Linked DNA regions of Homo sapiens. The protein of the gene in region 1 purifies or fractionates together with the protein of each later gene. This does not show direct contact. Each region holds a gene or a part of one and is shown on either strand. Other genes may lie near its edges.

Region 1 (4,498 bases):
CAGAGGCTTACCTCCCCATAAGCAAAAGGCACCTCTGGCCAGCTGAATCTGTTGAATGGTATTTGCACACAAAGCACGGAAATGTATTAAAAAATTCATTCCTATCTCCCAGGTTCTGGCTGTTTGACTTTTCAATCCATGGTGCCGTTATTTTTTGGGTATCAGATTTGGCATTTTTGTTTTGCTCAGCCCAGATCCATGGTAACATGAAGCTGTTTTCCCCAAGCATAGACTCTCTGTAGCATCTCAGAACCATAGGAGGCAGCAGACCTGGTAAGGACTCTACCCACTCATCTCATAGACCCCAGACTGACATGCAAAGCATGAAAGCCACTTCCTGCCCAAGGACTCACCGAGACCTGGCAGTCTTGGCAGAATTGGGGCTCAAATTTCCATTTCCTGATGTTTCAGCCCCTGGGATTTAACGTTTCCTGTGGGTGAATGATGTCCCCTAAATTGAAAGTTGGCCTATTGTGATTGTCACCATGCCCTCAGGGCCCAAACAGCTGGGAAAAAGGAGGCAGCAGGCAAGAGACCTGGAGGAGGCCCGCCAGGTGTCAGCCAGCAAACCTCAAACAGAGCAGCAGCCTAAGCACTCAGAAGCAGCCAGCAGCCTCCAGTGGGGCTACAGCCCTTTGGGCCTAAAGTGAGGATGCACAAGGCCCTATCTTCTCCTCTCAGAGAAAGAGGCTGCAGGATGGGGCAGCAGGGGGCTGGCAGACACCTGCTTGATGACGGTGACAGCTAATGGGGAGATGGAGCTGAGGGCAAGAGGACTGGATGTCTCTACCTCCTGCTGCACCAGCTGCCTGCATTCATCCAGCACATCCCAGGCCTGGCATATCTTGGAGCCCCATCCTGGGACTCAGTGGGAGGTCAGAGCCAGGAGGAGATACTTCCTGTCCTTATGGAATTTCCAGCTTGATCCAGACACACCCGTTGACATCCCTGGCCCAGATCCGCAGAGACAAAACCAGAGATTCTCAGGGTTCCAGACACTATATGATGGGGGCGGGGGAGGGCTGGGGGGTGTAGGGGTGAGGGTGGTAGCTTTGGGGAGCAGAGGAGGGCCCTGAGCAAAGGCAAATGGGAGGAGGGATGTGGGATGGCCTATGTGTCCACAAGGGGTATGTAGGAGAGAGTGTCTCTGGGCTGCCTCAGAGGGTAGACTTGTCTCCTTGGGGTGGAGTCCATGACTGGGAGGATGAGCACCGCATGGAGGGGTTGGACAGGGCTGAGGAGTAGCTGGGGAAGGAGGTGACAGAGGAAGCCTGCATTTGGCATAAGAAGCACACACATGTGCCAGGAAGTGACTTGAGCCAGGCAGGAGAGGGTGAGAGCAGTGAGTTTGGGATGGAGTTTTGGCTGCTGGGAGTACGCAGGGTGGGTCAGGGAGAAAGAGGTCATTAGTGGGGAGCTGGGCTGTAGTCCAGGCCTGAGGGGACTGAGGGCGACTGAGTGGAATCAGACTGTGGAAGTGGACAGGAAGCAGCAGAGTTTCTGGGGGGTGACTGGGGAAACACTGCATGGGGCTGGACTGGGATTGGTCATCTGGAGATGAGGCAAGAAGGGAGTGGAGAAGTTGCTCACAAGACCACACGCTCTTGCATTGCAGCGGCATTTATTGAAACACAGATCGAGACAACCCAGAAGGCAATGCACCCATAGACAGTCACAAGAAGGAGACCCAGGAAGTGGCTTAACTCTCTGTCCCGCCAGCTCTGCATTGGACAGTCCCCACCTGCACCCAGCAAGGGGGCATCTGGAGCAGCCATGGAGTCTTCTTTGAAATGTACAAAGGTTCACTGAATAGCAAGACCTGTCCAAAGTGCCCTAACCAGGGGCTGTAGGCAAAAGGATGCCCCACGATAATGGGCTTCTCAACTGCGAGGTCACATGAGGAGCCTGGCTGGAACAGGTTAGCCCAGAAGCAGGAAGGCAGTCTGAGAGAGAAGCAAAACATGAACAGGAATGAACAGGCAAGTGCTTGCTGGGGGACCATTCTTCCCAGCCAGGAGGAGGGGGCTGCTGGGGAGGGACTTTCTCCCTGATTCTCGGGTTGTGGGTGGCCTGGCTGGATGGTTAGGATGGCGCCTCCACCCAGAAGGTGGAGCTTCCGTGCTGACCACCACGCTGGGGGACTGGTCTTGTCCCTGAGAGCTGGGGGAATAATACAAATTGGATACAGGTATTTTGGAGCTAAGTAGGAGTTAAGTGAAGGGCTGGGAATGCCTCTGAAAACAGCTGCCAGGAGGACAACTAGGATGCATCTCCCTAGCATGAAAAGGCGCAGGGGAGCGGCCCGAGGGTCTTTCCCTCTGTAGGTCTTTCCCTCTGTAGGAACATCCAGAAGATTCTGGAAGCAAGCACACATTTTCCATTCACATGCCATTCAGTGCAGTGATGCAGGCAGGCAGGTGCTTGGCAGGAAGCCCTGGCTCCATGACTCTACTAGGCAAAGCGGACCGACCGGCTACTCCCGCAGCTGAAGCTGGAGGAACGAGGCTGGCAGGGGGCACAGGAGTCAGGGGCCACCACCGTGATGCTGCCGCCTATGGCTGAGGGGCCAGAAGTGATCTGGCGCCCTGGGGTGGTGCTGTAGGAGAGGCCCCCACAGGAGACTCCACCACGGGAGCTGCTGACACCTGTGGAGAGAGGAGACATGGAGGGGTGAGCAGCTCCCTGCAATCTCACCCACCCTACAACAGGCCCCAGGGCACTGCAGGAGCTGCCTCCCTCTCCAAGGAATTGGTGGTCAACAATGCAGGCCCTGTCCCTGAGATGCACAGCCCATCTAGGGAACTGGGGCAGGAAGGAAGTGAGGACCCCTGGACCCCGGGGAGCAAAGCTGCCAGGCCACAGGTCCATGGCCTATAGCTCACTGTCAACACTTGCGAAGAGCACTCAGCTCAGCTTTCTCTAACACCTGTCATGGCCCCCACTGAGGAGCCAGGGGAGGGTGAAACAGTTGGGGGAACACTCGAGGCTCCATGGGTTAGGCCAATGAGTTCAGCTTTTCTATCAAAAAAGCCATTTTTCCAGGAGAATTTCAGGCAGATACTCACAGACATTCACAGAGCCCACACCTTCACACAGCCTATGGAGAAAGAAAACTCTGTTAGTTCCAGACACTGAGTTGGATTCCTTGAGACTGATGGTTGCTTGGGGACAGAGAGGGTCATCCTGTGTACAGAGTCTACCCCTGAAAGGCAAGAAGGGCTCCCTCAAATCTGCATTAAATGCTTTCTTTCTTTGATGGTTTTAACCATGAAGACAAGGCTTTCTGATTTTCAGCAGCAGTGGGTAAGATTATGAACAGTGCCCCTAGTTTGAGTGATGGTGGCCAGCCTGGATGGTGCCAATCAAGCTCACAGGAAGGAGAGTTGAATCAGATACACCAGGGTGTGAAGGGGCTTTGTGGTTGATGAAGAGCTAAATGCATATAGAAGTGCATCATCATCATAACACACAGGCCTGTGTGGCAGCAGCTTCAGTAGGAAGCTATTCAACAAGGACGGATTTGGGAGGCATGAGACTTGGGTGCAGGTCCCAGCTCTTCTGCTTATTAACTGCGTAGCCATGATAAAGGCACTGAATTCTGAGCCTGCTTCTTTATCTAAAGATAAAAAGATGGGAAAAACCATATCTATCTTATTGGATTGTGAGGATTATAAAATAAACACTTAGCACAGGTCTAGCACAGAAGCATTCAGTTATTATTATTATTATTATTGAAGCTATTGTATTAGCCATGGCCAGAGTTGTAGCTCACACTCAGCTCAAGGAAATTCACTCCTGGAGGACCACAGCCTCCACCTCTGAAACCCCACAAAGTCCTCTTAGCCCCACCTGTGTTCCTCGCCCTCCAGCAGGCGCCTGTAGGTGGCGATCTCGATGTCCAGGCCCAGCTTGGAGTTCATCACCTCCTGGTACTCCTTGAGCAGGCAGGCCATGTCCTGCTTGGCCTTCTGCAGGGCGCCCTCCAGCTCAGCCAGCTTGCAGCGGGCATCGCTGAGGGCCGCCTCACCCTGCTGCTCTGCCTCAGCCACAGCAGCCTCCAGCTTGGCACGCTATCAGGTGGAGATACAAGGGCCAGGATGAGAAAGAGAAGCCACAGCTTGGCTCACCCAAGCTGATGGAGCCAGGGCAGGGAGAGGAGGGTCCTGGAGAGAAGGTTGGCCCGTGGCCAGGTAGTTAATGGGGCTGTGAATATGAGGGAGGAGATGGGTGGGCTTTTCATCATCTCTCCTTGATGGCGGTCACAGGGTGGCCAAGGAAGGGGCTGGATCCTCCTTTGGAAGTCAGTGACATGGTCTGATTGCTGTGAAATATGATAGAGCCCCTCCCTTCCCTCTGGGTCCCTGCTTCCTCATGGGCACACTGTGAAGCCTGATTAGGGCCAGGTGCTGCAGCCTGCCTGTGCTGCGTATTTGAATCCTCCACAGACCCCACCTGGCACTTGGCATTCTCAATCTCGGCCGTCAGCCTCTGGATCATG
Region 2 (4,504 bases), on another chromosome or scaffold:
CATCTACATGAGAAGCTCATCAACCCATCCTAATGTCCTACAGCTAAAAGGGCCAAGCCTAGGTTCAGATCCAAGGCCATCTGATTCAAAGAGCATGTACAATGAAAGATTTAACAGCTCACATCAGAAGAGGAGGTGTTTGCAGAAATAATTACTGTTTAAAATAATAACTGACCTTCTCGATATGTTTCCTCTCCAGGTTCATGACTACCTCCGCAGCAAGCTGTGTTCCCTCTATGAAAATGACTGCATTTTTGATAAATTTGAGTGTGTGTGGAATGGGTCAGACAGGTAAGAAAGGCTCTGTGGCTGAAGAACCTTCCAAAGATTGTCTTGAAGAGGCTCAGGGAATTTATCCTAAGTAGAGTACAGCCAAAGGGAGGTCAAAATTGGGCCCCAAAACCTGGCTGAAATGCATAATGTGGGCCCCTAGTGACCCTTGAAGTCAAGGCTGGAAAGAAGAGAAGGATGTAGTAAGGCCTTTGAATCCTGTTTCTGAACTGGCACAGATAACACCTTAATGTTAATAAGAAAGTCCTATCTTTTTCACACAAGACACCTCCAGCACTAGGTCAACATGCCTAAATGAAGATCACTTATCCACCAGCAAATTCCAGCCTGAACAGTTCAGATTAATGCCAAGTAGGCTTTCCAGATCAAAAATTATCCCTTGAAGCTGCTAGTGGAGACCTGGCCAACGGCCCTGGTAGTTCATTAACTGAATTCTAGTCAACCTCATTTATCACATTCCCTCAAAGTGATTTATTACTATTTTAAGGCCTTTGATTTGAACAGTGCTTCATAATACCTCCCAATAGTTCATTTTTAGTTTGACAAATACAAATGATTCTCTGATTTCCATGAGAACTAAGTGCAAGCTACCAGGGGCTGATTTCGTTCCTTGATGAAGGTGGCACCAATAATAGTGTTTGAAAGCATAGAAATTCTGTTATGGCAAGACATTCAGAGATTCAAGCTTTCAGTGAATATGAACTGTCTCTCTCTCACACTCCACCTGTTTCTTGGCTTTCTTTGCCACTGATCCAAAATGAATCCCCTCCTTAGCAGGCTTGGAAGGAGTCTCCACGTGGCAAAGGACCCAAGTCACACTGACCAGTTGGTATAGGACAGAGAGCAAAGCAACTGTGACATAAGAACAAAATCCACCATGGGAAAAAGAAGCCAGCCCTCTCATTTTATTATTTATTTATAGGTATTTATTTATTCATATATTATTATTTACATATCTGTTATTATTGCTCAAGTTTTTCCTCTATCTTAGCCTTGATTCAAAAATTACACTTATTAGGCACCTACTATATACCAAACACATTCGTACACATCATTTTATTTAATCCCAACCACAGTCTAACAAGATTGCTTCCATCGTTCTCATTTTACAGTTAAGGAAACTGAGGCTTAGCAAGATAAAGTAATCTGCCCAACCTCATAAAGTAGTAAGTAGTAGAGACAAAAGTAACAAGTTTAGAGTTTGAATCCTAAGATCAACACTCTTTCTATAACATCACAACTGGGAAGTTTAATTTCTCTTTCAGATAAGGTTGGTAGTCTTTTTTTTTTTTTTTTTGGAAAATAATCTCTTACTTGTTTAAAAATAAGTCGGGTCATGGTGGGCAAGCAAACGTCAAAGTATGGGAAGCAGTGAGGCCAACCGGCTGAATACTTATGCCCCAGAGTCAACCATATGTGGGTTTGAGGGTGGACTTTACCACCAATTAGCAATGTGACACTGAGCAAATTACTTCTCTGTAAAACCCTTTTAGGGGATAATAGAAGTTGAAACGAGATCATGGAGGCAAAGCCCTCAGCGCCCTGCCTGACAAGGTGATAACAGTCCACTCGAGTACACAGACACAGTTCACAGTATCAGTTTGATGAGCCAGAGTAACAAAATCTAACCTTTGCTTAATTTACCTGGTACAGGTGACAACGTGCCCAAAAACACATCCCCCTTGCTGTGGCCCAATCTTGTCAGCTTTTTCCTTCACCTCTCTACACATCCCAAATCATTTGAGAAATACACGAGAGTTCCTGCTCTCCCATCTTAAGGAGCCAGTCAGAGCTCCACCCAGAAATGAGTAGGAGCCCCCCACTCCAGGGGAACCACCGTGTGATGGCACTTGGGGTACTTGCCCTGGCCCAAGGAATCTCTCCCTCCCCACCTCAGCTTGTCACCGTGTCTGAAATGTCACCATTAAACATTCAGTACCTTGCCTCTGGAAGACATTGGGTGTTTGCCACTCTCCTGATCGATTGCAGCTATGCCTAAGAGGGGATAACTTATAAAAATGTGGAAACCATCTGTCCATTAAGTGTGGGAAAAAAACCATATAAAATCTTTTTATTTCTCCATCCCAGATTCTTTTAAAATTTGAATTTCCTTACTTGTTTCCTAGATAAGACCATGATGACATCCATTTCGTAGATAAGTTTTCTAAAAAGGCCGAATTCAGAGCTAGTTCTCGGCAGGGGAGAGGTCGCGCCCCGGGTTCGTGCACGATGCCACTAGCATCTCTCCCCTCACTGCACTGATGCCATGAAGCCTTAGAGGCCAGACGGCCCAGGAACCCTGTTGACAGTGGCCAAACCTTAAACACGTACAACTGCTTATTGTTTTCAAAAGTGTGTCTACTTCGACAAACCTCATTCTAGTCTCACATTCCTGATGGGAGGTAGGTAGGACTGGGATCATTAAAACCAGTGGACACCTTTTCTGAGCCAAAGAAGCAAAAAGAATCTATTGAGCAAAAGCAAATTACAAGGAGAGTTCTCACCATCCCTCATTTCCAAACCCAGCCAAAAATCCTATTGCTTTCAGTGATTCAAAAAAAAAAAAAAAAAACACAAAAAAAAAACAAAAAGCCAATAATCACACTGCAGAGCCTGTTCTCATTTTTTGGTTTTTGTTTTTAATAAAACCTATGGTGTCATAAGCTGGCCATAACATGGTATCATTTGCTCCAAAAAGAAAAGACAGTGAAGATATGTCATTGCCTTTGCTCTCTGCCTTGCAGTGTCATCATGACAGGCTCCTACAACAACTTCTTCAGGATGTTCGACAGAAACACCAAGCGTGATGTGACCCTTGAGGCTTCGAGGGAAAACAGCAAGCCCCGGGCTATCCTCAAACCCCGAAAAGTGTGTGTGGGGGGCAAGCGGAGAAAAGACGAGATCAGTGTCGACAGTCTGGACTTTAGCAAAAAGATCTTGCATACAGCTTGGCATCCTTCAGAAAATATTATAGCAGTGGCGGCTACAAATAACCTATATATATTCCAGGACAAGGTTAACTAGGTGGACAAGTTATTACTTAATAATCTCACATACTGAATACTAGTCAAACAAGTTTTTAAATGTTTCTTTGGGTCTTCATTTGATGCATTGACTTTAATTTCCCTATACAGGAAATGATTGGAATAGAATTAAAAGGAGTCCAACATTCCCAGCTCCCCAGTTCTAAGAAACTTTTGTCAAACCCAATAGGTTTGGGACACTTCTGTTTAGAATTGAAAGCTGCCAGCTAACAGTAATTCTTCCATAGTTGACTTGAACTTCTGATGCTTTTATTGCCCAGTTTTCTCTGGTGGGTCCAGTGTTTTGTTCCTAGGTGTCTGCTGCGATAAAATGAGGTTGTCTGTAGTATTTAAGGAGAAAAGAGATAAGTTTTTTTTAATTAAGCAATTCCATTTGATTGAAAAAAATCAACAAAAAATAAACACCGTTTACTCTTAGACAAATTCTTCTTGTTTTGTGAAAAACCAGAACTAGTCAGTATCTCCTGCCCCTCCACCATTTTTTTTTCCATTTTCCATTTTCCTTTGAACAATTTCATTTAAGCCAGAGATTTATTGCATGAAGCTGAGAAGAGGATGCAGAATGACAAGGAAAGGGCACATCAACCCTGCTATGCTCTTTTTTTGTAAGCTCCATAGAAACAGCCTGAGAATTTGGCTAGGGAACTTGAATGCTTCAGGGGACAGAAAGAGAGCACTTTCGACACAGTGCTTCCCAGAGTGAGCTTGGCAGGGCCAGGCGGGGCCAAATTCCATCTGCTGCCTTGTTACTCTTGCTTTTTGTGCTCTTAAATGGCTCCATATAATCTTCTACTTACATGTTCCTTGGCTTTTTTCTCTTCAACCTTTTCCAGCTTATTTATTCCATTGACTTCTAAAGGCCGAGTCCTGGGTGCTTATTATCTGGTGTTCTAAATGAAGCAGTAAGTTGGAAGCAGTGCCACCACCCCTGAGTCCCTGAGAAAGGCTGGTCTGTTCTTTTTGGGTGTTTCTCCTAAGCAGCACCCTCCCCTCCTCCTGGTTTTGGTAACCAAAAGTAACAATCCATCAACCTCCATTGTACCTAGAACAAAAATAGCCAATAAAAACGCTGAGTTGTGAAGTCCAATCAGGCACTTCTAACTCACCCCAAGCTCGCCATCTGGAAAAACAGACCAGAAGGCTCTCTTCTACAGAAATGAACTGTGGGG

What was found.
Region 2: the proteins of KRT85 (region 1) and PPP2R2B purify together in Homo sapiens (pull-down; one large-scale study listed by IntAct). This does not show direct contact.

Annotation. Positions count from the first base shown.
Region 1 is NC_000012.12:52,358,402-52,362,899, forward strand, and holds the end of KRT85 (keratin, type II cuticular Hb5), read right to left. Parts: coding exon 4,453-4,498; intron 4,071-4,452; coding exon 3,850-4,070; intron 3,098-3,849; coding exon 3,066-3,097; intron 2,646-3,065; coding exon 2,452-2,645; 3' UTR 1,605-2,451; downstream 1-1,604.
Region 2 is NC_000005.10:146,588,758-146,593,261, reverse strand, and holds part of PPP2R2B (serine/threonine-protein phosphatase 2A 55 kDa regulatory subunit B beta isoform), read left to right. Parts: intron 1-199; coding exon 200-291; intron 292-3,035; coding exon 3,036-3,315; 3' UTR 3,316-4,504. UniProt on the Homo sapiens protein: The B regulatory subunit might modulate substrate selectivity and catalytic activity, and might also direct the localization of the catalytic enzyme to a particular subcellular compartment.